Linked DNA regions of Homo sapiens. The protein of the gene in region 4 purifies or fractionates together with the protein of the main gene of each other region. This does not show direct contact. Each region holds a gene or a part of one and is shown on either strand. Other genes may lie near its edges. The genes, in order: PADI3, HEPHL1, NEK9, NSMAF, DSG4, EPB41L2 and TCHH.

Evidence for each region.
Region 1: the proteins of NSMAF (region 4) and PADI3 purify together in Homo sapiens (affinity purification with mass spectrometry; one large-scale study listed by BioGRID and IntAct). This does not show direct contact.
Region 2: the proteins of NSMAF (region 4) and HEPHL1 purify together in Homo sapiens (affinity purification with mass spectrometry; 2 studies listed by BioGRID and IntAct, with this or other methods). This does not show direct contact.
Region 3: the proteins of NSMAF (region 4) and NEK9 purify together in Homo sapiens (affinity purification with mass spectrometry; one large-scale study listed by BioGRID and IntAct). This does not show direct contact.
Region 5: the proteins of NSMAF (region 4) and DSG4 purify together in Homo sapiens (affinity purification with mass spectrometry; 2 studies listed by BioGRID and IntAct, with this or other methods). This does not show direct contact.
Region 6: the proteins of NSMAF (region 4) and EPB41L2 purify together in Homo sapiens (affinity purification with mass spectrometry; one large-scale study listed by BioGRID and IntAct). This does not show direct contact.
Region 7: the proteins of NSMAF (region 4) and TCHH purify together in Homo sapiens (affinity purification with mass spectrometry; 2 studies listed by BioGRID and IntAct, with this or other methods). This does not show direct contact.

Annotation. Positions count from the first base shown.
Region 1 is NC_000001.11:17,265,878-17,269,992, forward strand, and holds part of PADI3 (protein-arginine deiminase type-3), read left to right. Parts: intron 1-189; exon of another isoform or gene 190-419; intron 420-841; coding exon 842-959; intron 960-1,959; coding exon 1,960-2,085; intron 2,086-4,115. UniProt on the Homo sapiens protein: Catalyzes the deimination of arginine residues of proteins.
Region 2 is NC_000011.10:94,069,371-94,073,485, reverse strand, and holds part of HEPHL1 (ferroxidase HEPHL1 precursor), read right to left. Parts: intron 3,113-4,115; coding exon 2,944-3,112; intron 462-2,943; coding exon 322-461; intron 179-321; coding exon 47-178; intron 1-46. UniProt on the Homo sapiens protein: Is a copper-binding glycoprotein with ferroxidase activity. It oxidizes Fe(2+) to Fe(3+) without releasing radical oxygen species. May be involved in the regulation of intracellular iron content.
Region 3 is NC_000014.9:75,106,140-75,110,254, forward strand, and holds part of NEK9 (serine/threonine-protein kinase Nek9), read right to left. Parts: intron 3,739-4,115; coding exon 3,546-3,738; intron 1,349-3,545; coding exon 1,204-1,348; intron 564-1,203; coding exon 363-563; coding exon of another isoform or gene 327-362; intron 1-326.
Region 4 is NC_000008.11:58,593,497-58,597,611, forward strand, and holds part of NSMAF (protein FAN), read right to left. Parts: intron 4,055-4,115; coding exon 3,891-4,054; intron 2,580-3,890; exon of another isoform or gene 2,564-2,579; intron 2,361-2,563; exon of another isoform or gene 2,304-2,360; intron 2,164-2,303; coding exon 2,064-2,163; intron 1,359-2,063; exon of another isoform or gene 1,274-1,358; coding exon of another isoform or gene 1,242-1,273; intron 795-1,241; coding exon 736-794; intron 1-735. UniProt on the Homo sapiens protein: Couples the p55 TNF-receptor (TNF-R55 / TNFR1) to neutral sphingomyelinase (N-SMASE). Specifically binds to the N-smase activation domain of TNF-R55. May regulate ceramide production by N-SMASE.
Region 5 is NC_000018.10:31,410,920-31,415,034, reverse strand, and holds the end of DSG4 (desmoglein-4 isoform 2 preproprotein), read right to left. Parts: intron 3,926-4,115; coding exon of another isoform or gene 3,805-3,925; coding exon 3,587-3,804; intron 2,208-3,586; coding exon 1,440-2,207; 3' UTR 126-1,439; downstream 1-125.
Region 6 is NC_000006.12:131,052,766-131,056,880, forward strand, and holds part of EPB41L2 (band 4.1-like protein 2), read right to left. Parts: intron 1-4,115. UniProt on the Homo sapiens protein: Required for dynein-dynactin complex and NUMA1 recruitment at the mitotic cell cortex during anaphase.
Region 7 is NC_000001.11:152,108,654-152,112,582, reverse strand, and holds part of TCHH (trichohyalin), read left to right. Parts: coding exon 1-3,929. UniProt on the Homo sapiens protein: Intermediate filament-associated protein that associates in regular arrays with keratin intermediate filaments (KIF) of the inner root sheath cells of the hair follicle and the granular layer of the epidermis.

The DNA.
Region 1 (4,115 bases), on a different chromosome or scaffold from region 4:
CTTTCACCAGGAGAAAAATCATCGCCAGGAATTATCAGGCATGGAGGTACCCAGCCCTGAGCTAGGCCTTGGTTTGTGGGATCAAGACCTTCTGGACTCATAAACTAGGTCAGGAGTGGGCAAACTTTTTCCGTGAAAAGTCACATAGCAAGTATTTTAGGCTTTGTGGGACATATGGTCTCAATTCTGCCACTATAGTGTGAAAGCAGCCACAGTTAATACAGAAATGGATGGATGTGACTGTGTGCTAATAAAACTTTATTTATACAAACAGGCAGTAGGCCAGATTTGGCCCACAGTTCATAATGTGCTGATCCTGACCTAGGCGAGAAGAGAAACCAAATATGAAACTGTTGAAGAACTTGGGACTGAATTATGTTGGAACTTGGTGCCCTGGGAGTTAAGAGGAGAAGGTCGAGGTGGGCTGGGTGGGTGAGGAAGGCTTCCTGGAGGGACGTACCCTTGAGCTGAGCTCTGAAGGGGTGCAGGAGGGAGGACGTTCCAGGTGCAGGGAATGGCAGGAGCAAAACCAAGGAGGGTTTAATGGAGGAATGAGCACAGAGTGAGGCGTGTGGTCCTATAATCAGGTTGCCTATTGAGAAAGAGGATGTTGGCTGAAGGCCCATCACAGATAGCCATGAAAGACAGCTCTGTGCTTTGGACTGGATGGTGTGGGCAACAGAGAGCCATTGCCATTGACATGTCTTGAGAAGGAGGTGCTTCGAGAACGTGGACCTAGCCTCACAGGGTTGGGTGGTTACAGGCCAGGCTCGGGTTCCTGGGTAGGGAGGCACAGGTCTCATCTGAGCCCTCATCACTGGCTATGTTTTGTCATTGGCAGCGGCAGTGGGTCTGGGGGCCCAGTGGGTATGGCGGCATCTTGCTGGTGAACTGTGACCGTGATGATCCGAGCTGTGATGTCCAGGACAATTGTGACCAGCACGTGCACTGCCTGCAAGGTGAGGCCGGGGCAGCCTGAGTCCCTGGGTGTCCAGGGTCACTGCTCAGTTACCCCATGGGAGTTCCAACCCACAGGCGAGACTCTGAGGCCAGAGTCCAGGGGAGAGCGCCAGCCTCCAGACACACCTCGATGCTCCTCAAAACCCATCTCAGGCTGGCAGCTGCCCCTCCCTAGTGTCTCTAGGGCCAGTGAGCACTCACATGCCAGGGCAGAAGCTCTGGAAATGAGCCACCTCGCCATTCTCTTCCTCCAGGGGAGCAGAGGATGCTAGCATTATTTGAGCACCTACTGTGTGCCAGGCCTTTTCCCCAAATTCTCATTGAATCATCCAAGTGGGACAATATCATCACCCCAATTTAGAGATGAGGATGCTGAGACTCAGAAGCCAGGAGACTCCCTGAAGACTGTGTCTGATCTGGGGCCTCCCCTCTCAACCCCAAATCTGGGCCTCCTCCTTCAGCACCTCTGGCCTACATTTCTGTGACTCCCCCACCTCTTGCTAAGTCCATCTGTCCTGAATTCCAGCCCCATGGAGAATGAGCTGCAATATTCCAGGGTATGCTAGGTGCTGTCCACGGGAGATGCCCACGGTTGCCTTCTGAAGTGGGCACCATTGGACATGGGGATGCTGGGGCTCCAGAAGGGAGGGGCTTGTCCAGGGTCACAGGGAGTGATGCTGGGATGGAGGCCAGAACCCTTACCTGCACGACGCCCACATGGCCTTACCCTCCTTGCTTCTCTGGAGCACCTGTTGTGTGTCAGACACCAGCTGGCTATGCCACACTTCATGTTTCTCTGGGCAATTGAGGAAACATGAGTCCAGGAGAGCATAGATGTCTTCATGGTTTGTTCTTGATGGCTTCCAGGGTTTTCACAAAGCTAGGGCTGGGAGACCCAGGTCTTGATACCCACTGACCTGGGGAGGGAGCTGGGCAGCAGAGGAAGGGGCCAGGGGCCAGGACTCCCTTGAGTCACTACCACTCTGTCTGGCTTCACAGACCTGGAAGACATGTCTGTCATGGTCCTGCGGACGCAGGGCCCTGCAGCCCTCTTTGATGACCACAAACTTGTCCTCCATACCTCCAGCTATGATGCCAAACGGGCACAGGTCTTCCACATCTGCGGTGAGTTTGTGCCACTGCCCCTTGCCATCTGTGCCCTGTTGCCAGGTTGCCTACCAGGGAACCTCCTGTTCCTGCCTTGGGCCATGGGCAGGTCCTGCTTACACTCCGGGAGATGCCCTGGTGGGTGGCGGGTCGCAGTAAGAACAGTCAGAAGTGGGGGCTTTGGAACTGATGAACTGGTGCCCCCAGCACAACACCTGGCCTGAGGTCATTTTATTTGATGAATGACCTTTTCAAATACATTTTAAGCATGTGTAGAAATTCTTATCAAAAATTTCAAACATACACAAAAAGCAGTGCTGTGAATCCCCATGTGCCTGTCACTCAGATTAAACAATTATCACTGTTTTGTCTGTCTCGCTGAAGTTTTGTAAAACCAACCCCAAACACCATAGATTTCACCCAATTAATTCAGTTTGTATTCCCCCCAAATATAGATGGCTGTTGTTTTACATAGTCTGCCAAAATCACAAGAAATACAAGTAAAAATCTAAATGCCTTTGAGAAACTAAAAATGTATACAAGTAATAAGATGCTTTTTTTTTTTTTTTTTTTTTTTTTTTGAGACAGAGTCTCGCTCTGTTGCTCAGGCTGGAGTACAGTGGCGTGACCTCGGGTCACTGCAACCTCCACCTCCTGGGTTCTGGCGATTCTCCTGCCTCAGCCTCCCAAGTAGCTGTGACTGCAGGCATGTGCCACCACACCCAGCTAATTTTTTGTATTTTTAGTAGAGACAGGGTTTCATTGTCTTAGCCAGGATGGTCTCAATCTCCTGACCTTGTGATCTGCCCGCCTCGGCCTCCCAAAGTGCTGGGATTATAGGCGTGAGCCACCGTGCCTGGCCGCTTATTTTTTAAATAATCAGACAATATGGAAGTATAGAAAATGAAACCTGAGAGTTCTCTACCCGTCTCTAAATCTGACTTTTTTTTTTTTTTTTTGAGTCAAGGTCTTGCTCTGTTGCCCGGGCTGGAGTGCAGTGGCATGATCTCAGCTCACTGCAGCCTCCACCTTTCAGGCTCAAGCAATCCTTCCACCTTAGCCTCACGAGTAGCTGGGACTACAGGCATGTACCACCACACCCTGCTAATTTTTTTTTTTTTGTAAAGACAGGGTTTCACCATGCTGCCCAGGCTGGTCGTGAACTCCTGGGCTCAAGCAATCCACCCGCTTTGGCCTCTCAAAGTACTAGGATTATAGGCGTGAGACGCCGCACCTGGCCTGAATCTGATTGTCACTGTTAACGAGTTGGGATGTGTGCTTCCCAACTTTATTCTACATGTTCTCCAGCGTGTGTCCATATGCTGCTTTCCAACCGGCTTCTTTCATTAAGTAATAATCCCACACACCTTTTCTGGTATTTATTGAGCTCTACTTCATTCTTTTCCACTGCTGTATAATATTCCTAAGCATAGAGGTGCTGTGACTTACACAGTTCTCTGAACATCATAGTGGTTTGCAGTGTTTTGATTTTATAACAATGCAGGTTGCTTGAGGTCAGGGGCTTTGTTCAAGTCCAGAACCGTGCCCCATGGGTGCACTGTAGTTGCACAGTAAATATTTGATGAATTAATGAATATCGAGCACTCTTGTACAGAAATATTATGTGACTTTGTACCTATTATTGTTTGTTTGTTGTTGTTGTTTTGTTTTTTGTTGGTTTTGGTTTTTTTTGAGATGGATTCTCGCTCCATGCCCAGGCTGGAGTGCAGTGGTGTGATCTTGGCTCACTGCAACCTCCGCCTCCTGGGTTCAAGCAATCCTCCTGCCTAAGCCTCCTGAGTAGCTGGGATTATAGGTGTGCACCACCACCGCCCGGCTAATTTTTGTATTTTTAGTAGAGACAGGGTTTCACTATGTTAGCCAGGCTGGTCTTGAACTCCTAACTTCAGGTGATCCACCGCCTTCGGTCTCCCAAAGTGCTGTGATTACAGACATGAGCCACCGTGCCCAGCCTGTAGATGTATTTTTGTAGGAAAGATACCTAGCAGTGGAATTGCTGGGCTTGGGGTAAACATTACTTTGTTGGA
Region 2 (4,115 bases), on a different chromosome or scaffold from region 4:
TTGCTCACCCGTCCTGTTTCCTCCCTAAGCCCAGAGTGAGACTTACCATCTAGGTTTGGGGCTGCATCAGATGCCTTGTCATAGATCACACCATGGGGTAAAATGCTATAGACCTTGTCGGCTTTGTTGGCAAAGGTCACTAACAGGGTATCACCCACCTCTGCCTTGATGACTGGGCCTGAAAAAATATCCAGAAGAAGAGAGAGAAGAGAATGAAAAGAGACAGAAAGAAGTAAAGCAGAAGAGTCATTCTGTGCAGATGTACATGCCCAGCTAAAACATCTCCCTGGGTTCAATGCATGGGGGATGGTTTTACTGTACCAAGAATTCCAAGATGGGCTTCTTCAGCAGAGAGTCTCTTTCTTTTAGTAAAAGTTGCATCAACAAATTCAGTATACCGAACCTTCCAGTATTTTCCTCCTATTCTGTTGTCCCCTTGTGTGAAGTAGAGATCAGAGTCACTGAAAAGACATAGGAATGTGATTGAGGACACTTCTCAACATATCCACCAAATACTTTAATTATAGAACTTCATTCTATCACTTTTAGTCCACTCGCCCACCCATGTCCCCAGAAAAGACAGCACAGGCCTTGACAGAGTTCCCAGGAATAGTTAACCAGCCCTAAAAGTCTTCAGAGGCTGGGTGATACTCAAGCTCATTTCTCTCAGCCATTGTACTTTCTTCCCAAGAGGTCCAGCACTGAACCAGTCACAAGTAAACTCCTTATTTACCAATAGTAGAGTTCCAGAATGGTGTTCTACAAAGTAACAAAGAGCTAACTGGTTTCTCTGCAGAATAAGCATCCCTCTCTCTCTTGCTGATATTAATATGAATATTCTCTGCATCTAGTAAGCTCTTTGATTTCTGGCATTATTAAGGAATGGAGTGTCTAGTTAATCAAATAGTGTAATTATTGGAGGGCTACCATATAAACCATATGCATGAAATGCAAAATTTCCAAGTCGTGAATATGATAATATAAATTCTGACTAATACTGTCTCTATACTATCTTATTTCCATCAATGGTGCCATCACTCTTGCAGCCACGTAGATTTTCTTTTTCTGCTTCATTCCCTTAACTCATTCATCCTTACTTTGTAAAATTTTTTGGCACTCTTCCTTTTCTATCCTCCTTGTGCATCTTTTCTTTTCCTTTCTTCCCACTACCACGACCCCAGTTCATGCCCTAATCACACTGGGTGGAGCCCATTATATGAACCTCTGAACTGCATCCTCTATCTGATACTGGCTCATTCACTTTTCTTCTCAGCATAGACACACAACTATTAGATTGGTGCAAAAGTAAGCCATAATGGTCATAATGGCCAAGACCGTGATTACAAATTACTTTCAATGGCCAAGACTGTGCTTATTTTTTCACTTAATACATTAATCTCCAAAATGGCAATTGTTATTGCTATTTACCTGCTCCAAAATCTTCAATTGCTTCCAATTGCCAATCAAATAATGTTCAAAAAGATTAAAGGACCTCTGCAATTGATATCCCGTTTACCCCAATTCTCTATTTCTCCATGCCAGTGCCCATTCTTCTATGCAAATTGTTACTGCAGTCTCATCTGTTCATTCCTCCCATGCCACAGGTGCTTTGCATCAACCCCTCCATCTAAAATTCCTCTCTTCCCTATTCAGTTAAATAAATTCTATCACTCCTTAAGATTTTGCTTAAGTCTCACTTCCTCTATAATGTGTTCCCTGGCCAGCTTAGCTCTCTCTGAGCATCCAGATAACTCACTACCAGGACAACTCACCTCACTTTTATTTGTAACTTGCAGTTACTTCTCTACTCTTGTGAACCCAGCTTCTTCCTCTGCATTTTATTGCTTTAGATATCCTTGCATCCCTCATGTCATCTTGCACTTTGTGCTTTCATATATCACATTAAACATTGATTGAATATAGTTTAATCTTTCCTATTTCAGAAGGCACTTCAGAATTCTAGAAGGCTCCTAAGACAATTTTGAATGCTAATTCTCATTATTCTGTTTATGGAGAAATACTAGTCAATAGAGAATGTTGATATCAGAGTCTTTCACATATGGTTCACACAAATTCTTTAGACAGGGTTCAAGTGCATCCGTTTGGTAGAATAATGAGTGAAAGTATGAATGAATGAATGAATGAATGAATAAAATGTACAATTAAAGAAACAAATGATGTTTTATTGATCACAAAGAGAATTTTTAAAACATTCCCTTAAATATAAAAAAGGATTCTTGATATCACACTGTACATTTTTTAGTATCTTCACAGACAACTTTGCATATGATTATATACTAACAAGTCACAGGAGTCCAGATCCACCTAATAAATTGCTAGATTAATTTTTTAAATAGTATATTCTATGGGAGCGCAGAGAGAACATAATTCATTTATATCAAGAGTCAAAGGTTTCACTTCAGAGGTGACATTAGAGTAAGGCTTTGAAAGAAAAATGGCATTTTACTGAATAGAAAGGAAAAGAATATTTGTAGGACATAAAGGGGACACAACTTAAATCAGGATATCCTTGAACCAAAAAGGGTAACCCTCTTAGGCCAGGTCATCTCCATCTCCTGTCATTCCCTCTTCAAGACTGTCTGCTCCATATGTGTAAAGGCCTTACTCTATTCTTTGTCAGCTTAGTATTTCTAATGGCACTTTGCACTATAGTTTGCACATAGTGCCTACTCAAGAAATGTTTGATCAATGAGTGAATGATCTAGTGTTTTGATTCAGCCGTCAAGTCACAAAACAAAAAATATTCTACCAGTTCTCAGCAGTGCTTTTGCAGTATTAAGAACACCTTAAGCAGCTACATTATGCCATCTATGCAGTATAAGCTCATCAGAGCAGTGGTTGGAATACAAATTAGATCACAGAGAAAGCCTAACACATGCTTCTCTGACGAGAGGCTTAGAAACACCAACAAAGGGTGCTTACCTGCCAGAGGCGTTTAGAGGAAGACCACTGAATTTGTTATAGCCTTGAGGAGCATAATCCCAAAGAATTTTTTCAGCTGCTATAAAGTAGCGCCTCTGTTGACCCTTCATCTTGGGGTAGAAAATATCACTTTTGCAGTTATCAACATTGTATTGCCCCAGCATACCAGCTGCAGAACAGAGGAAAACCACGAGCTGAGGCATAAATGATCACAAAAGGAATCATATAGGAAAAGACTGATAGATTTGGCTCTTGAACATTTAGGCTTCTGTACAGAAAATTGGACCATAAAGAAAGTTTTTTTAAAAAGGATAAATGGCAACAGGAGGGATATTTGTGACACATATGACAAAAGATTAATACGTAAATCACTTTTACAGATAAAGATGAAAACAAGTAAATCTCCAATAGAAAATGAGCAAGGAACAGAAATAGTTTATTCACAAAATAAATAATATTGGCCAATAAACAAATGAAAAAGAGGTTCAACCTTAACAGTACTCAAATAGTACTCAAACCTTAACAGTTTTCAAATGATACTATTGTTCATTGATCAGATTAGTAAAGATTAGAAAGACTAATAATTCTCAGTGTTGGTAGATGAATGGGGAAAGAGCCATACTCATACACTTCGTGTAGAAGAATAACAATTTCCAAAAGAGAATGTGGCAATGTATGTCCATAGCTTTTTTAAAAAAATCATACTCTTTGACCCAGAAATTCTAAATCTAGGAGTTTTTCTAAGAAAATGTTCAGACAAAAGTGCAAACATCTATAAATAATAGTCATCAGTGCTGTTTATAATAGCAAAAAAATTGGTGGGAAACATAAGCATTAAGCAATAGAGTATTGATTAAGCAAGATGTAATCTCCTTATAATGGACACTGGAAGTATTAACCATGATGAAGTAAGCTCTATATTCACCGACATGAAAATGTGTTTCTGATATATTTGTAAATGAGAAAAATTAGCTACAGTGCAGCATTAATAGACTGATTTCATTTTTTAAAATACATATATATTTACATATTAAGAAATAGAAAATAGGGAAGATATTCACCAAAATGTGAATATAAAATATTTCTATTATGGAACTACTGATTTTAAAACCAATTTATAGGGGCCAGATCCAGTGGCTCATGCCTATAATCCCAGCACTTTGAAAGGCTAA
Region 3 (4,115 bases), on a different chromosome or scaffold from region 4:
GGTCAGAAGTTCGAGCGAGACAAGCCTGGCCAGTGTGGTGAAACCCCATCTCTACTAAAAATACAAAAAATTAGCTGGGTGTGATGGTGTGTGCCTGTAATCCCAGCTACTCGGGAGGCTGAGGCAGGAGAATCACTCGAACTCGGGAGGTGGTGGTTGCAATGAGCCCAGATCATGCCATTGCACTCCAGCCTGGGTGACAGAGAGAGACTCTGTCTCGAGAAAAAAAAAAAAAAAAAAAAAAAAGATTTACTGAATTAACACTTCTCATTTAGGGGCTGCATGATGGGTTTAGATGCATACAACTTTGAAGTCAGGTTGTATACCTGTGAAGAAGTGGACAGAGACAAGGCTACCCCTACCATATTCGCCACAGCCCCAAGAATAGACTTCCTTGTTTCGTGTCAGAACCACCACATGATTATCTCCACAGGAGACCTGCTCCACTGGATTGCTGAGGAAGAAGTTCAGCTGCATGGGTTCTAGCACTTCAGGGCCAGCAACTTTGTCCACCCCCATGCAGCCATAATAATCTGATCCGAAGGCATAGAGCTGACCCTCATCTGCAAAAGAAAGGAAAACAGAATCCATCAAAGGACTGACTTATTTTATCTAATCAGAAAGTTGGGCAGGGCTGGAATGAGGACTACCCCAGCAAATGATCTCACATGAATTGATTATATCCAAGAAATTAAAAGGACAGACTGTGCAAGTCTAGAGTTCTATGTCAGAGAGTCATGTGTACTACTACTACTATATTAAACAATTTAAAAAGTGGTAGCATTATCACATTAAAAGGACTTAAAATTTTAATGGGGCCATCTTTGTTATATAGATAAAAAAATAAGTCCCAAGGAATCATTAACTAAGTAATGACAAGACCAAAACTAAACTTAGGTCTTGATCCTAATTTTGTGTTATTCATAGCCTGATGAGGTGGTAAGATTATTTTTCCTGCCAACCACGACACACATTTTCTCCTGATCCCACCTCTTCTCTGTTACCCACCTGTCTTCTCCTTGCTCACCACCCCCTAATACTATAGCAAATTTGGTATGTTATTATTAATGAGTATATTTGCTCAAGGTCCTCTGGTTCTTTGTATACTGTCTTTTGTTTTAAAATCCCAACTAAGATTGCACAGCATTAAGCAAAATACCCCCACATTAAATGCACTTAAGACACTTTCTGCTGATGGCTTACCAGTCACACAGACAGTGAAATCATCACCACATGACACCTGACGGATAGCTTTGCCTTGCAACTTTTCCACATGCTTTGGCTGTCGATAGGAGGCTTTGTCTCCATGGCCCAGCTGACCATGGAGTTTAGTGCCTCCTTGCATGTTCTGTGAAATAAAGAGGTCTTATGACTTTTTTTTTTAATTACATTTTATTAAACTTAAATTTTAAAGAGATGGGTTCTCGCTATGTTGCCCAAGCTGGTCTTGAACTCCTGGGCTCAAGTGATCCTCCTGCCTCGGCTTCCCAAAGTGCTGGGATTGTAGACATGAACCACCATCCCCGGCTGAGAGGTCTTATGAAGTTTTAATTTTTCATGCCAAAAGCTGATCTTTAATGGAACTTCATATGAAGAAAAACAGTAGAAAAAAAGAGCTAGAAATTTAGAAATTAGAAAAAAATGGGCAAAGGGATTAAACATTTTAATAGCAAGTAGTATACAGATCCTGCCAACAGGTAAAGAAAACTTAAAAAGTATCCAGATTAATATCCATTAATCTAATCTTTGTCCTTCAAGTCTAAGGTAAACTATATATTTAATTACAGGTGATGGTGAAAAAAATTCTTTATAATATAGTCTAACTTTGTTGCTTTCTACAGGAATATAGCTTCTTGAAAATCTGTACTAGAAGTTTCATAAATTTTGGTCACAGTTTCCCTGAAACATGGAAGAGTTATAAAGAATCTGGCTACATCAAAGAGGCTGCTATACAGCAATGAGACTAGTCCTTGATGACTTTTCAACTTTTTTTTTTTTTTTTGAGACAGAGTTTCGCTCTTGTCACCCAGGCTGGAGCGCAGTGGCTCGATCTCAGCTCACTGCAAGCTCTGCCTCCTGGGTTCAAGCGATTCTCCTGCCTCAGCCTCCCAAGTAGCAGGGATTACAGGTGCCCGCCACCACGCCTGGCTAATTTTTTGTATGTTTAGTAAAGATGGGGTTTTGCCATGTTGGCCAGGCTGGTCTCGAACTCCTGACCTCAGGTGATCCACTCGCCTCGGCCTCCCAAAGTTTTGAGATTACAGGTGTAAGCCACCATGTCTGGCCTTTTCAACAGTTTTATAGAGAAAAATAATTCTATTAAATGAGTATACTACAAGTCCTCATATTTTATATATATATGTGTGTGCGTGTGCGTGTGTGTGTGTGTGTGTGTGTGTGTGTGTGACAGTATATATATATATTTTTTTTTTTGAGACAAGGTCTTGCTCTGTCACTCAGGCTGCAGTGCAGTGGTGCAATCTTGGTTCATTGCAATCTCCACCTCCCAGGCTCAAGTGATTCTCATGCCTCAGCCTCCTGAGTAGCTGGAATCACAGGCATGCGCCACCACTCTCAGCTAACTTTTGTATTTTTAGTAGAGATGGGGTTTTGTCATGTTTGCCAGGCTGGTCTCAAACTCCTGGCCTCAAACAATCCACTCGCCTTGGCCTCCCGAAGTGCTGAGACTTCAGTTGTGAGCCACTACGCCCAGCCAATAAATGTTTAAGATACTAATTTCTCTCCAGCAGCCTGAAATGAGCCTGAGAACGCATAGCAAGAGACAGGAGGAAAGCCAAGAGAACATGCTATCACAGAAGGCAAGTAAAGACAAAGCTTCAAGAAGGAGGGAGTGGTCAACTATGTCAAATGCTGCCGAGAGGTCAAGCTAGGTAAGGACTAAAAAGCATCTGTTTTATTTTAGCAATTTATGGGTCATTTTGTCAAGACTAGTTTCAATTGAGTGGCAGTGGCAGAGATGGAAGCTGCATTGTAGGTGAATGAAGAGAGAGTGGGAGATAAGGAAACAGACAGCAAACACAGACAATTTGTTAAGGAAGGTGAGAGGGGAGAATCTAGAGGGCAACAAACAAATTCTACACAAAATATACCTAGCCATCTTCAATCACTGCTGTGGGCTTCAGGGGTTTCCTGACATGGTATAGTCCTTCCTTTGTTTACAAAGCTATTTCACAGGTAATAGTTGCTCTGAACCTCATGGTAATATAACAGAGTAATTGAGTGACTTGTCTGAAATCATCCAGCTGTAAATGGGAAACCCCAGTCTCCTGAGTCTTTCAATTTTTCTCTCCCTCTCTCATTCATTCATTCAAAAAACATTTATAGGTGACCTAATATGTACCAGCCCTGGGCATACATCAGTGAACTAAACAGACAAAATCCCTGCTCTTATAAGAGCTTCCATTCCATCACCCCATGTTGCCACTCCCTTAGTATAGGTTCAACTAATAAAATGCTTAGACATCGTGGGCCCAGTAAACAATTAGGCTTACAGCACTGTTCCAAAATGCTTAGCGTTCACTTACCACCCAAGTGTACAGTTCCTTCTCCACTGTGACCACAGCAAAGTGGGTATTCCCTGCACAGACCTGCCGGGCACTACAGCCACTCTTGATAACATCCAGTTTCTGGGGGGTGGATTTTCCACCACCCCAAACATAGACTTCACTGGTTCGTGATGTTACTACAGCAATGGGTGCTTCAGTCACAGTGCTTGACCTGCCAACAACCCCCAGAACAAAGGAACATTTAACATTAAAAACAATATCAAAGAAAAATGCTTCCAGTCTGTTCCCTGAGAAGAACTGCCAATTATGGTATGAGAAAGTATGTTCTTTCTCGACAACTTGTTTCAATGTGCTCTATCACAGCAGACTTTGCAATTCCTGCCTCAGGGCTTCATCACAGCTTGGCCAGATCAGATTCCAGTCTGACCCATAACACCTACACTTTTCCACATTCATCATGGTAATGATGGCCACTTTAGTGTGAGGGTGAAATTATAGCTTTCTTCTTAGAAATGACTGTCTGACATTTAAGCAGATGCTGGCTCCTGAAAGGATGCCAAAGTATCCTCGGATCAAATAATGCCTACA
Region 4 (4,115 bases):
GTTACAAACTTTGTCAGAACAAGTTGTTTTCTCATGGAAGCAGGAAGCAAAGATACTACCCTTCCATCTCTGCATCTTCCAGAGTGCCAACACAGTGCTCTCAACATGACAAGGCCAAGACATACTTTAATGAATAATATATAATGCAGACTACCAGGGAGAGAACAATGGTGTATATAGTAAGGGATGCTTTCTGCTTTACAGCTATAAGTCATATCAATGACACACTGCAAGGGTTTTTATAATTTTGATAATGTATAAGCATATTAAATAATACATGAATTTGATTTTGAGCTAAATCAAATATCCCGAAGAAATATACACTGAATGACAAAACTGCAAACCGTAACAGCAAATCTGCATTTCCACGTGCTGACAGGCACACATCAATTTCTGATACAGCACTTGCTACTCACAGCCAACCCCAACAAGTGGACAGCGCACCTCTCATGGGCAGGCAGGAAGTGCCTGACCCAGCAAGGGTGTGGAAAGGAGGCTGTTTCTGTCCTCTATCCTCAACTCTGGGAAACCTCATCAGCAACAGAAAGATGTTTCATTATTATTTTTGGCAAATTACCATGAAACTCTATGTAATGTACCACAAAGGAACTGCTCTAAGTTTACTTTATGTGGAGGCAGCACATGCAAGTGCAGTCCTTGACCACGAGCTAAATAATAAAGAACTCAGACATTCTAGGATTTTGGTTAAGCCGCCTTTCGGGGAGGAACACTGACCTTGGGATGTTGTGAATACTGAAGATCCATTGCGAGAGACCGTGATTCCAGTAACTGCTCTGCTCAAAAACAAAGTTTCACAAATTACTACTCATCATGTGTTAGGATACCCTCTTTGTTTCATATCCTTGATTTAATTTTACCAAGTTTCCTTAATTTTTTTCTTCACAGCATGTCTGCCGGATCTGTCCCAGCATAAACCTGCCATTACCAAATCACTGCTTGGCACCTTCTAACGTTCTGGCAACGCCTGTGGCTAGAAAACATCCCCACTCTTTGCTTCCCTGTGTTCCACATGCAATGCTTTACATATTCCTGACAATTTCTGGCAATTGGAAAACTCTTCTCCTTCTATTCCCCCTCGTTTGACCATCACCAAAAGGACAAACTCTTCTTCACAGTCACTTCACTTGCTGATTACTGAAGCTAATTTACTCAGTGACTATTCAATGATGAGAAAATTGGTTCCAGCCTGTCCTCTTAAAGGATCATTCAGTCTTCACTACCTTGGATTACAAGGTCCCTTCCTATGTGCCATTTAGAGAAGTTGAGAAAAGACAGCCATTGTCATCATGAATCAGCCAAAACTCCTTGTTTCTCTTCGGGAGGCTGGACTGTGATGTGAAGCCATCCATCTAATGCACAGCAGTATGCCCAGCTCCACCCATGACCTGTATGCCGGAGGGGCTGTCTGTCGTCATGGAGCTAGGTGGGGCCTAGTCTCTGGACCTGGGTTTCCTCTCTGTAGCAGGATGAACAGGCTAGGTCAGTGCTTCTCGAGCCTTTCTACCAGAGAACATGAAGGTCTTAATGAGAGAGGGCAGAGAACACACATATCATCTCTGGGTCCAACAGCAAGCCCAATTTCTTAGAAGCATAATTATTTTTAAAATTCATGTGAACTTTGCAATGTTCTCTGGGAGAGCTAATTTTTTTAAAAGGTGCCTTTTCACCTACATTATGTGTAAATCCAACACTCGTGGGGTATACATCACACTTCTCCCATCAAAGATTCAAGGAGCTGTGTACTCCAATTTGAGAGGCACAAAACTGGCTGCTCTCTGCCGACCACATCTTGTACTGTGAAGTGACAGACTGCAGAAATGACAGCACGGTAGCCACCACAAATCATTTCGTGCCAAACTTTCCCTACTACATCAACCTCAGGTGGAGATCACTATAGACATTTTGGGGAGATTTTTAAAAATAAAGACAACATTGAAAGGGAATTTTCCCTCTGACTCAGCTTAAAACAGTTTAATCCCATGCCAAGACCCTAACTTTTACCAGGACTATCAGCTGCTGAGAAGAAGCAGAGATATTCTTACTCTTTGTGGATTTTATAGTGCTCGTGTAACTGCAGTTTGGTGATGTTATTCCAGGCCAGTGTTTTGCTTTCTTCGGTCAGGTCTTCAAAAGACTCTTCACCTGGAGAGACGACATTAAATTTTTGCTAAGTCAACTAAGTTACCAACAGACAACAGCATCAGATTAACAATATTTTCTATTAAAATCAAACAACTAAGAAATGAAACACCCTGTCACAATATAACTGCTTTGAAATGTACCTGTTAGATGGTTCCACGTTAGTCAAGGAAAAAATTGTATAGAGAAAGATAAAAAGTATCTTTGAATAATACTAGAATCTTTTTATACTTTAACAATGTTTGCAAAGTTTTCACTCGGCCTCTAACTTATGAATTTGGGGAAATACAAGACTGAGTCATCATTTCCTTGTCAACATTGTTTCAAAAACCTGACAGTTGCCTAAGAATGCAACAATTTTGTTCTGGTGTGGGGTGGGGAAAGCAGAGATGAAATCAATTACCGCAAGGGCTTCTGGCAGGAGTAATCCTTTTACTTCTGCTTTAAGAAGGGCTGAAACAATTACCATCTTAAAACAATCACATGACAGTGGTTACAGCCTGGTGACTAAGCAGAGTGCAGTTTGAAACAGCATCACAAGATAATCCTGTGATCTTCATGATTTAACCCTCTAGAGTATTCTCTCTTAAAGAAGCTACCCCTGGGTCATGTAACTCCAGGAAGCTATTTCTCCATGCTTGAGAGAATGCTCATCTATGTATGCCTAAAATGTCTGGATGTCCTTGGAACAGACAGGAGGATAGGAGATAAAAAGTGATTTTGCTCCCAAAGCTCCACAGAGTGTCAACCTCCTTCTGGAAGCCTGTAGGTTTGAAGTTGTCTTAGGTAAAATCTAAAACCTGGGTAACTGGAGAAAGGTGAGTGTTCTTTCCTACCTTTCCAAATATTAGATGTGAGAACTGGGTCAAGTTCAATTTAGTGCCTAGCACATGCCCAGCGCAGAACAGATACCCTGTAAATGTTTGTCAAATGTTAAATAAGTGAAATCCAATGAAGAAGAGAGAGCACTTTGAATTCAAGATGTATGTGGGGCCGAGCGCGGTGGCTCAGGCCTGTAATCCCAGCACTTTGGGAGGCCGAGGAGGGTGGATCACGAGGTCAGGAGATCGAGACCATCCTGGCTAACACAGTGAAACCCTGTCTCTACTAAAAATACAAAAATTAGCCGGGCGTGGTGGCGGGCGCCTGTAGTCCCAGCTACTCAGGAGGCTGAGGCAGGAGAACGGCGGCGTGAACCCGGGAGGCGGAGCTTGCAGTGAGCCGAGATGGCGCCACTGCACTCCAGCGTGGGGGACAAAGCAAGACTCCGTCTCAAAAAAAAAAAAAAAAAAGATCTGTATGTGGGTATAGAAGAGCATAATTAGGGCCAGAGAAAGTCCCTTCTGGAAGACAGCAGGGCTGACAGTGACTGGGAAGGCAGACTGGACAGCTAGGACTGTAAGAATGAAAAGGCAAATAGCTAAGGATCAAACACCAGCTTCAAAACCACAGAAGAGAAAGAGAACCACATCAAAACATATATGGCCAACTTTCACTCATATTCAATTGCCAGAAAATAAAAGCGATTTGATTTCCCTTACAGTCTATAGCTGAAAACAAACAACATCAGCAAAAACAGGTATCTGTTTTCAGGAGAACTGCAATAAGGCAGGAGAACACAATCATCTCTAAGTAGCACAACAGTATACGTCTTATCTCCTCTTCAGAAACATTTTCATCACAGAAGAGAAACAAAAGGTGCTCACGTTTATTCTCTTTACAAAATTTACCTGGGGAATCTGCCATAGAAGCATTATAACTGGAGGTCTGGGACAAACTTTTAAACTTTGGGGTGATCCTTCGAGGATGTGGTGTCACAAATAGTTGTTTTGGTGTCTGCCCAAATTCCAAGATTTGCGTAAGCATGGCTACCTTCTCATCAGGATCCTGGATGCTTTGGGACAGAACACAAATAATGCAGTGAACCACTAGGTTCGAGTTCCTTGAAAGCACGC
Region 5 (4,115 bases), on a different chromosome or scaffold from region 4:
CTCTATTTCTAGATTCATTGTCCAGAAAATGAGAGAACTAGGTAAGAGGTTATCTGAGATGACTTAAATTCTACAATAGTTTTATTCATAAAGGAGCAAAAGATAGGCAAGAAACACTACAATTATTTCCTTTCAAAAGGATTAAGCCTTGAAAATAAGTTTATTTCATTTACATTATCTCAGTCACATTATTGCTGCTACTGTATACATATTTTACAGAATTAAGTAAAATTACCTGGCTAGAGATTCTTTTTCTCAAGTCAGCTTTATGCCTACGAAAAGTAAGCAATGTGTTTCCATTTTATTTATTCAACATAAACAGTAGTGTTGCAAAGAGAAACACAACTTGGTAATGGACTTAAGTAGTTGGTTAATTATTGTTGTTAGGAACTTAAAGCCATATCCCAGAGTTTTATTTTAAGTCTAGAAATGAATAGAAGCTCTATGAAGGCAGAAACCATGTCTGTCTTCTTTACCTGTATATTCACAGAGCCAAGACTAGCACCCAACACCTAGTTGCTTCTAAGTAAATATTGTAGAATATATGAATAACTACAGAGTGCTTTTGGAGAATATCTGGTTGCCAATTGAAAGCTCTACGATTCAGGTCAATGAAATTGGTTAAGCCATATTTCATGTATTTTTCTGACATAATTGGCAACAGTAGGGAAAAAATTCCCTGTAAGTGGGGAAAACTCTAATATTTCCCCAATAACTCTTTCTACTTTAGGATTGTCATTTTTTTTTGCTATTCTAGATTAATTTACAGTTAATCATATAAATCAATAAAGTTCAATAAAAATATATATTTTTCTTTGATGAACCATTTCCAGCCATGCTTTCAGTTGGCAAACTCTTTTCTTATTATATTAAGCATCTCCTATTGCTTAATAGCGCATAATATTGAAAAATCTTTTGAAGAGACAAATGACTTCAGATATCTAAAGATATTGACAGATACTCTACGTTCCTTTTCAATTTCCTTTCAGAATGTACATTTCATTCAACTTTTCAATTAAAAATTTTAATATAAATATTTCCCTAACGAAAAATATGGCTGGTGGATGTAGACAGGGCTTCTTTTGTAACTTCCAAGAACAAGGCATCTTGGTTTACAAGATTGGTTCTACAGGCCTCAAGACCCATAGGATTCACAATATGAGTTATGTGCTATTCGTTAGACAGTATCAAGGGATGCAATACATTTTCTGCACATTTTTTGACGCATTATTTAAAATCAGAAAGAATTTTAAAAAGGCTTATCTAAAGTGCCTAGCCATATTCACCCTCAAAATGGTATAATCAAATAATGGCATTGACCTTAGAATATCTGAGTATTTGTTGACTATTAATATATATGGTACATTATATATTTTTGGTGGATGTATTGATGATTACAAGGTGCAAGGTCTCCACATAGAATACTGACCATAAAGCACTTACTGTTGGGTGTAATGTATGTTACTGTATCGTGTTACTCTGTGTCGAGATGTCATGGGGGATGTGGAGCCAACGGTTTGGCCTATGGGAAGGTCTGGACTCATCATTTGCATCACTTGAATTTCTGGCCCTACTAAAATATTGCCGCTCATCACAGGTCCCATACAACCCTCAGTCGTGCTACTATTGCTCATGTCAGGCACACCAGGACTAGCCAGTACTCTCTCAGCATAGATTACATTGTTGTAATCTGCTAACTCAGCAGGTACACAAATATTCCCTTGAATATCATAGACAGGTGCCATTACTGCTTCGGTTACTACAACATTGGGTGCAAGCTGAGGATCAAAAATAATTGTAGTGGGTTGCACACATGGATCAGCATTACCGTAAGTCTCAGTCACAATAATATCCCCATGGACCACGGGTTCAGATGCTGCCATTTCTTCTTGGAATTCAACTTCTGAGGGAGTCAATCCTGAAGATTCATTAACAAAGTAATTAGGTCCGAGCAAAGGGAGGTCAGTACTGATTGGTATACAAGCCTGGTGTGAAGGAAATGGTTCAATTTCTGTGTTTAAGCAGATCTCAGCAAGAGTCCTAAATTTTGGATCTAAAGTTTCCATGCAGCTTTCATCTAAGTCATCCACAATCCAACTGCAACAACCAATAGAGCCTACGGGAGACCCGACTCCCTCGTGGTCATAAATGAGCAAGCAGTCATTGGCTGGTCGACCTTCATCTTCATCTGCATAAGCATACGCTTTCTAAAATTAAAAGGAAATACAGAATTAGAAATTTCTTTTTCCCTAAAATAAGGAAGAATAACAGCAATCCCTCAGAGAGACTTCTGAGTTAAGTTGTTACGGAATAAACTGAATAATGGTATCAATCACTCATTAAAATAATTGATACTATCCATGCACATTCTGTGATAGCATTTGTAACTACCAATTTTAAGATATAGTTTACAATTGCAACAACATCTTCAGCATTTGTTTGGTAAAGAATCATGGTGAAATTCATGTATGAACAGATGGAGAATAAAGCAGGCCGACTGAAATATGAGATAAAATTCTAGTTCTATTTTAGTTCTTTTAAAATGTGTAATAAATTATTGTTAACTATAGCAATCCTGTTGTGCTACCAAATACTAGATCTTCTTCATTCTAACAGTATTTTTGCACCTATTAACCATCCCACTGTTTCCCCTCCCTACTACCCTTGTCAGCCTCTAGTAACCATCATTCTACTCTCTATCTCCATGAGTTCGGTTTTTCCTTTTAGCTTCCACAGATGAGTGAGAACATGTCAAATTAGTCTTTCTGTGCCTGGCATATTTCACTTAACAGTGTCCTCCAGTTCCATCCATGTTGTTGCAAAATGACAAAATTTCATTTTTTATGGCTGAATAATATTCCATTGGGTATATGAATCACATTTTAGAAGTCCAATCATCAGTTGATGGACACAGGTTGATTCCATGTATTGGCTACGTGACTAGTGCTGCAATAAACATGGGGGTGCATATATTTCTTTGATATACTGATTTCCTTTCTTTTGGATATATACCCAGCAGTGCTATTGCTGGACCCCTTTTCGTAGTGAAGGTCAGTTGGTGGATAAGTCACTGGACTGAGAATAGGAGAGCTATCTTCTAGGTCTTAATCTAGCACGAGTTGTGGTGATGCTGCGTTCCTGAGTTTTAACTCCTTTCGTTCCCAATTCTTTTTATTTTCTCTTTTCTGTTGGAGGCTCCGGGAGAACATGAAGGACATCAAAAACAGAGGTCATAAATGCACCTTTTTTCCCCTTGATGAGCATTTTCCTGCTTTGCTACTGCTGTGGGAAACAAGGTGAGGAATCAAGGAAACAAAAGATAGAAAAATGGAAAAGGGAAGTGGAGAATGATGAGGGGTGTGGCCTTGTTCACGGTACTAAGATGCGCTATGGCAGTTGAATATGAAATCCTGTGGCAAATTAGCATTTTGTGTTTTAAGGAGACGTGAAATACTTTTTATTCAGGTTTGGGATAGGGTTGAGAATAACAGCATATTTCCGAAGAGGCCTACTACCATTGTGAGTATTTTACTATTATTATTATTCAATCTCAAGACGATTTTATGTGTGACTGTGAGGGCATTACCTCCGAGAAGTAGCTGTCCAAGAAAGCCATGTTGATGTCTGCGTCAGCGTAGTCCCGCAGGGTTCCCATGGTAGAGCTCCTCTTCCTTGCGGCCCCTGAGGCTCCTGCGGCCCCTGCGGCCATGAGGCCAACGGCTGTCCCCATACCTGTGTTGAGCTCCACTCCCGATACACCTCCTTCCACCGTGCCCCCGGCTGCATAGGTGTTGGTGTAGATTTCTGAAAAGGGAGGATGTTGGTTTAACAGCGCTGGAGTTGCCTGCAGCGCGCATCTGCCTAAAACGCTGCCGCCGCCGTCTGCGGTGCCACCACCACCCGGCAAGGCGTAGGCGCTAAAAAGCTGACAAAGAGAGATACAAGTTACACCGATACATCTCCAGGCTTGTTGACCAAATAAAAGTAAATTAATTACACAGAGGGAGTCAGTGGTGGGACGTGGCCTTCCCACATTTGCACAGACTTCGCCCTAGACTTAAAGGTGTAGAACTAGCCAAGAGAACTACAAGCAGGCGCCCGTTCCCGCCGTGGCT
Region 6 (4,115 bases), on a different chromosome or scaffold from region 4:
ATCAAGAAACAGGAGTAAGCAGACCTCAGCAAGGTGGCAGAATAGGCTTTTCTAGTGCTTCTCTGCCCCACTCGCCCTGCTAACCTCACCCCCTACAGAAACATCAATTTGAACAACTATCTACACACAAAAATATAAATTTTTTTTTTTGAGGAGTTTCGCTCTTGTTGCCCAGGCTGGAGTGCTATGGTGCGATCTTGGCTCACTGAAACTTCCACCTCCTGGGTTCAAGCGATTCTCCTTGTCTCCGCCTCCTGAGCAGCTGGGATTACAGGCATGCACCACCACGCCTGGCTAATTTTGTATTTTTAGTAGAGATGGGGTTTCACCATGTTGGCTAGGCTGGTCTCAAACTCCTGACCTCAGGTGATCTGCCCGCCTCGGCCTCCCAAAGTGCTGGGATTACAGGCATGAATCACCGTGCCCAGCAAGTAAATTTTAACAAATAATAAAACATAAAAATATTCTGAAACTTTAAAAAAAAAATCAAGAAACAAGAAAATCATGTTATTTAGAGACAAAACACCAGAAAATAAAACCAAAACTAGTGAAAGTAGTTGTGGCAGACTGTCACGGTTACTACTTGAGACCATCACTACAACAGTTACTACTGTTACTACTTGAGACCCTCATTAGGAGACGGGACGAAGGGACGAACATGGAAATGATAAAAAAAAAAAAAAAAAAAAAAAAAGAAACTGTTTTAAAGGAAAGGCCAGGGGAAGAAAAGCTCCCTGCTTCTAGTCAGCAAAGGCAGCCCCCCTGAGCTCCACAGCCCTTCGTATTTATTGGGTAACAAGAACAGGGAGGAGGAGGTAGCAACTGGTCAGCTGCTTAACTGATCGCAGGTTCATATTGTTACTAACAGGCTTCAGATGTACCTAATCACAAGAAACACTGCACTTGGGGCGTGACTGCCTTCAGCATTCCTTCTGGGTGGCATACACAGTTTGTCAGTTTGCCAACATTCTACATTTATGAGAAACATTTTGTTGCTTACTCATATAGCCTCCAGTGGTATACTGAGTTGATCATAACCCTCATTCTTTCGACCTCCAACGTTTCTCCCTTTTTGTTTTTTAATTAATTGAGAAAGGCAACTACAGGCTGTGCAGCCCTTAATTGCCAGTTGGTGGTCCAGCTGATCTTACAACGGGAGGCACAGGAAACCATGGCCAGCATGGCCACAAACATGGAGTCAGGGGTCTTTGCCTGACCCTGACACTAACAGTGTCTCAGCTTCCTGTGTGGTTTTCTTGATCTATCCCCATGTCATGAGGGTTGATGTCAGTGTGACTCCGGTCGGTCCTCATTCCATCTTCGCATTCAGATTCAACTGGCTCATGGCTCGTATTAGGGGAACAAGGCCTGTAGCTAGAATCCATGGATCTCTCCAGTCTTCCATTCCATGGTCGCACACACCTTGAGGGCACCCACACAGTTTGTTCATCTCCTTATGTTGTCAAGCAGACTTGTAACGGGGTTTCTCATTTGTCTGGTTGGTTTTAGTTTTTTCTGTTCCAGCAGAACTTCCTCATTCAAGTCCCTATAGGACCCTGTCTCTATCTGTCCCTGTCTGTCCCTGCAAGTTTCTGCTAGCTTCTGCTGGTCTCTGCTAGTCTTTGCTAGTCTCTGCTAGTATTTGCTAGTCTTTATCTATCCCTGTCTGTCCCTGTCTGTCTCTACGGTCCCTGTTAGTTCCTCCAAGTTGGTGCAAGTCCCTATCTTTCCCTATCTGTCTCTATCTCTATTTATCCCTACTTATCTCTATGTGTCCCTGTAGGCCTCCTCAGGTCCCTTCAGGTCTCTTCAGGTCTCTGTTTGTCACTGATAGTCCCTGTTCGGGCGCCACTTGTGGCACATTGCCACAGTTACTACTTGAGACCTTCACTACAACAGTTACTACTGTTACTACTTGAGACCGTCATTACGAGACTGAAGGAAGGGACAAACATGGAAATAACAAAAAAACAAAAGGAACTGTTTTAAAGGAAGGGCCAGGGGAAGAAGAAAAGAGCTCCCTGCTTCTAGTGAGCAAAGGCAGCCCCTGAGCTTCCACAGCCCTTCATATTTATTGGGTAACAAGAGCAGGGAGAAGGAGGTAAGGATTGGTCAGCTGCTTAATTGATCACAGGTTCATATTGTTACTAACAGGCTTCAGATGTACCTAATCACAAGAAACACTGTGCTTTGGGCATGACTGCCTTCAGCATTCCTTCTGGGTGGCATACGCAGTCTGTCAGTTTGCCAACATTCTGCATTTATGAAAAACAGTTTGCTGCTTACTCATATAACCTCCAGTGGTATACTGAGTTGATCATGACCCTCATTCTTTTGGCCTCCAACAAGTAGTTGCCTCAGGGGAGCAGAAATCTGTCAAGAAGGGAGCTAGGGCACTGGTCTGCTGCTTTTTTTCATAATCCCTGCAGTACTACCTGACTTTCTAAATCATATAAAGCACCCTGGAGAATGCCATTTGCACTTTAAATGAAAGCAAAAAGTGCAAAACCACAGGAAAGGCAGAAACTAAAGGTCGGGGGAGAGCCACATTTTATTCTGATGTGTTTTATCCTCTGGTATATTTTTCTAATATTGAAAAATCAGGCTAGAAACATTACTTTAAATGTCTCTAGTCTGAAAAACAAGATGAAGGGTACTCCCTGTTCCAGCATGATTCAAGAATCACACAACTAAAAGTAGTACTCAGGTCTGCTTCATAATCATACCTTTACACAAAAAACTACATGGGCGAACCCAGTCAGGAAAGCAATCCTGTCTTTTATAAAAGTTAGATACTGCAGATGCCAACAAATTGCAAAAAACTTCAACTTCTACTGAGTAATAACATCGAACAATTAAAAGCAATAACTGGAACTCACAGAAAAAACAAGGGTTTTAGCCATACACAAGCTGGGTGCCCTTGAGCCATTTATTCAATTTTTAAGCCTCAGTTTCTCATCCGTAAAATAAGCACACCAGCTACTCCAAGATGGTGCTGCAAAAAAGAAGCAGGGTTATTAACATATGTAAAGTACCAATTATAGCACCTGGTGTGTAGTCTGTGCTGCAAAACCATTAGCTTCCTTATTTTTTTTTTACATGGTTATTGATTATCAAAGCTTCAGGCCTTACAGGATTACTTACAATGGAACCTAGAACAAAGCTAGAACTGAGCATAAAATGCGTGCGTCAGGGACAGGTTAAGCAAAGCAGCTGATGCGTGACAGCACCAGAAGCAATAGACACAATAGACCCAGTGGACCCAGTGGACCAAGTGCTACACCATCATCTAATTTTTCTAGCCTAAAATAAGGATATTTATATGAAACCTGATTTCTTAATGTTGGCAACTAACAAGTTAAAACACGATGTTGCTGGAAAATATGTGTGCAGGTATATTTCACACAAAGATTTATAAAGGTTACATTTTAATGCCATATGCAGAGGTTTAAACATTGTCAACAAAAATTCTACTCACTAATAGGCTTTTTTCAACAAGTTTACTGTGGTTATAGAGAGAAGAAGTTAGAACATATGCACACAATTTTACATTTATAATCAGTTACCTCTGGCAACATAACAAAAAAGACTACATTATCCCTGTGCTGTTGAAACTAGATCCCAACTGTTTTCCCATATATATGCTCTTTTGTAAATTAACAAAAAGAATGAAGTTAAGACAAGAGTTTCTAAAAGCTCAAACATTATAGATACTGGACTGAAATTGTTAAAAAGTGGTTTTAACTTGTGATCACCATAGGAAATTACTGTTTCATTTCAAAGACTGTACTTCCACACAGATAATTATTCCTGACCACTGCAAAAAATCTGCTTACCACATATTCACCAGTAACCAACCCACTAGGTCTCTTCTTAACCTAACAATTTTTACAGATGCCAGGCACTCTATGAAGCATTTTATAAGCATTAGTTCATTTAATCCTCATGTAACTCTGAGGTAGGTATGATTTTTAACCCCTTACTACAGCAAACGAGGCTTTGAGAAATAATTTGCCCAAGGTCACAATGGCATATGTGGCAGTCTAACCAGCATCAAATAGAGTGGACATGTTACTGATTCCTTCTAATCAATATTCCATCAAAGAAATTTGTAA
Region 7 (3,929 bases), on a different chromosome or scaffold from region 4:
GGCGGGAGCTGCTGGAGCTGAGGAGGAAGGGCCGCGAGGAGAAACAGCAGCAAAGGCGAGAGCGGCAAGACAGAGTGTTCCAGGAGGAAGAAGAGAAAGAGTGGAGGAAGCGCGAGACAGTGCTCCGGAAGGAAGAAGAGAAGTTGCAGGAAGAGGAGCCGCAGCGGCAAAGAGAGCTCCAGGAGGAAGAAGAGCAGCTACGGAAGCTGGAGCGGCAAGAGCTGAGGAGGGAGCGCCAGGAGGAAGAGCAGCAGCAGCAAAGGCTGAGGCGCGAGCAGCAACTAAGGCGCAAGCAGGAGGAGGAGAGGCGCGAGCAGCAGGAGGAGAGGCGCGAGCAGCAGGAGAGGCGCGAGCAGCAGGAGGAGAGGCGCGAGCAGCAGCTGAGGCGCGAGCAGGAGGAGAGGCGCGAGCAGCAGCTGAGGCGCGAGCAGGAGGAGGAGAGGCGCGAGCAGCAGCTGAGGCGCGAGCAGGAGGAGGAGAGGCGCGAGCAGCAGCTGAGGCGCGAGCAGCAGCTGAGGCGCGAGCAGCAGCTGAGGCGCGAGCAGCAGCTGAGGCGCGAGCAGCAGCTGAGGCGCGAGCAGCAGCTGAGGCGCGAGCAGCAGCTGAGGCGCGAGCAGCAGCTGAGGCGCGAGCAGCAGCTGAGGCGCGAGCAGGAGGAGGAGAGGCACGAGCAGAAGCACGAGCAGGAGAGGCGCGAGCAGCGGCTGAAGCGCGAGCAGGAGGAGAGGCGCGATTGGCTGAAGCGCGAGGAGGAGACGGAGAGGCACGAGCAGGAGAGGCGCAAGCAGCAGCTGAAGCGCGACCAGGAGGAGGAGAGGCGCGAACGTTGGCTGAAGCTCGAGGAGGAGGAGAGGCGCGAGCAGCAGGAGAGGCGCGAGCAGCAACTAAGGCGGGAGCAAGAGGAGAGGCGCGAGCAGCGGCTGAAGCGCCAGGAGGAGGAAGAGAGGCTCCAGCAGCGGTTGAGGAGCGAGCAACAACTAAGACGCGAGCAGGAGGAGAGGCGCGAGCAGCTGCTGAAGCGCGAGGAGGAGAAGAGGCTCGAGCAGGAGAGGCGAGAGCAGCGGCTGAAGCGCGAGCAGGAGGAGAGGCGCGATCAGCTGCTGAAGCGCGAGGAGGAGAGGCGCCAGCAGCGGCTGAAGCGCGAGCAGGAAGAGAGGCTCGAGCAGCGACTGAAGCGCGAGGAGGTGGAGAGACTCGAGCAGGAGGAGAGGCGCGAGCAGCGGCTGAAGCGCGAGGAGCCGGAGGAAGAGAGGCGCCAGCAGCTGCTGAAGAGCGAGGAGCAGGAGGAGAGGCGCCAGCAGCAACTAAGGCGCGAGCAGCAGGAAAGGCGCGAGCAGCGGCTGAAGCGCGAGGAGGAGGAAGAGAGGCTCGAGCAGCGGCTGAAGCGCGAGCATGAGGAAGAGAGGCGCGAGCAGGAGCTAGCTGAGGAGGAGCAGGAACAGGCCCGGGAGCGGATTAAGAGCCGCATCCCGAAGTGGCAGTGGCAGCTAGAAAGCGAGGCCGACGCACGGCAAAGCAAAGTCTACTCGAGGCCCCGCAAGCAGGAAGGGCAGAGGCGCCGCCAAGAGCAGGAGGAAAAGAGGCGGCGCCGGGAGAGTGAGCTGCAATGGCAGGAGGAGGAACGGGCTCACCGGCAGCAGCAGGAAGAGGAGCAGCGCCGGGACTTCACATGGCAGTGGCAGGCGGAGGAAAAGAGCGAGAGGGGCCGTCAGAGGCTGTCGGCCAGGCCCCCATTGCGGGAGCAGCGGGAGAGGCAGCTGAGGGCCGAGGAGCGCCAGCAGCGGGAACAACGGTTTCTCCCGGAGGAGGAGGAGAAGGAGCAGCGGCGCCGCCAGCGACGCGAGAGGGAGAAAGAGCTGCAGTTCCTGGAGGAAGAGGAGCAGCTCCAGCGGCGGGAGCGTGCCCAACAGCTCCAGGAGGAGGAGGACGGCCTCCAGGAGGATCAGGAGAGGAGGCGAAGCCAGGAGCAGCGCCGCGACCAAAAATGGAGGTGGCAACTAGAAGAAGAAAGGAAGAGACGCCGCCACACGCTGTACGCCAAGCCAGCCCTACAAGAGCAGCTGAGGAAGGAACAGCAGCTGCTGCAGGAGGAGGAGGAGGAGCTACAGAGAGAGGAGCGCGAGAAGAGAAGGCGCCAAGAACAGGAGAGACAATACCGCGAGGAAGAGCAGCTGCAGCAGGAGGAAGAGCAGCTGCTGAGAGAGGAACGGGAGAAAAGAAGACGCCAGGAGCGGGAAAGGCAATATCGGAAGGATAAGAAGCTGCAGCAGAAGGAAGAGCAGCTGCTGGGAGAGGAACCGGAGAAGAGAAGGCGCCAGGAGCGGGAGAAAAAATACCGCGAGGAAGAGGAGTTGCAGCAGGAGGAAGAGCAGCTGCTGAGAGAGGAACGGGAGAAGAGAAGGCGCCAGGAGTGGGAGAGGCAGTACCGCAAAAAAGACGAGCTGCAGCAGGAAGAAGAGCAGCTGCTGAGAGAGGAACGGGAGAAAAGAAGACTCCAGGAGCGGGAGAGGCAATATCGGGAGGAAGAGGAGCTGCAGCAGGAGGAAGAGCAGCTGCTGGGAGAGGAACGGGAGACGAGAAGGCGCCAGGAGCTGGAGAGGCAATATCGGAAGGAAGAGGAGCTGCAGCAGGAGGAAGAGCAGCTGCTGAGAGAGGAACCGGAGAAGAGAAGGCGCCAGGAGCGGGAGAGGCAATGTCGGGAGGAAGAGGAGCTGCAGCAGGAGGAAGAGCAGCTGCTGAGAGAGGAACGGGAGAAGAGAAGGCGCCAGGAGCTGGAGAGGCAATATCGGGAGGAAGAGGAGGTGCAGCAGGAGGAAGAGCAGCTGCTGAGAGAGGAACCGGAGAAGAGAAGGCGCCAGGAGCTGGAGAGGCAATACCGCGAGGAAGAGGAGCTGCAGCAGGAGGAAGAGCAGCTGCTGAGAGAGGAACAGGAGAAAAGGCGCCAGGAGCGGGAGAGGCAGTATCGGGAGGAGGAAGAGCTTCAGCGCCAGAAAAGGAAGCAGCGATACCGGGATGAGGATCAGCGCAGTGATCTGAAATGGCAGTGGGAACCAGAAAAAGAAAATGCAGTTCGTGATAACAAGGTTTACTGCAAAGGCAGAGAGAATGAACAGTTCCGGCAGTTGGAAGATTCCCAGCTGCGCGACAGACAATCCCAGCAAGATCTGCAGCACCTGCTGGGTGAACAGCAAGAGCGAGATCGTGAGCAAGAGAGGAGGCGCTGGCAGCAGCGCGACAGGCATTTCCCAGAGGAAGAACAGCTGGAGCGAGAAGAGCAAAAGGAAGCCAAAAGGCGCGACAGGAAGTCCCAAGAGGAAAAGCAGTTGCTGAGAGAGGAAAGAGAAGAGAAGAGACGCCGTCAAGAGACAGACAGAAAATTCCGCGAGGAGGAACAGCTGCTCCAGGAAAGGGAGGAACAGCCGCTGCGCCGCCAAGAGCGTGACAGAAAATTCCGCGAAGAGGAACTGCGCCATCAGGAACAAGGGAGAAAATTCCTCGAGGAGGAACAGCGGCTGCGCCGCCAGGAACGGGAGAGAAAATTCCTTAAGGAGGAACAGCAGCTGCGCTGCCAGGAGCGCGAGCAACAGCTGCGTCAGGACCGCGACAGAAAATTCCGCGAGGAGGAACAGCAGCTGAGCCGCCAAGAGCGTGACAGAAAATTCCGTGAAGAGGAACAGCAGGTGCGCCGCCAGGAACGAGAGAGAAAATTCCTGGAGGAGGAACAGCAGCTGCGCCAGGAGCGTCACAGAAAATTCCGCGAAGAGGAACAGCTGCTCCAGGAAAGGGAAGAACAGCAGCTGCACCGCCAAGAGCGTGACAGAAAATTCCTGGAGGAGGAACAACAGCTGCGCCGCCAAGAGCGTGACAGAAAATTCCGCGAACAGGAACTGCGCAGTCAGGAACCAGAGAGAAAATTCCTCGAGGAGGAA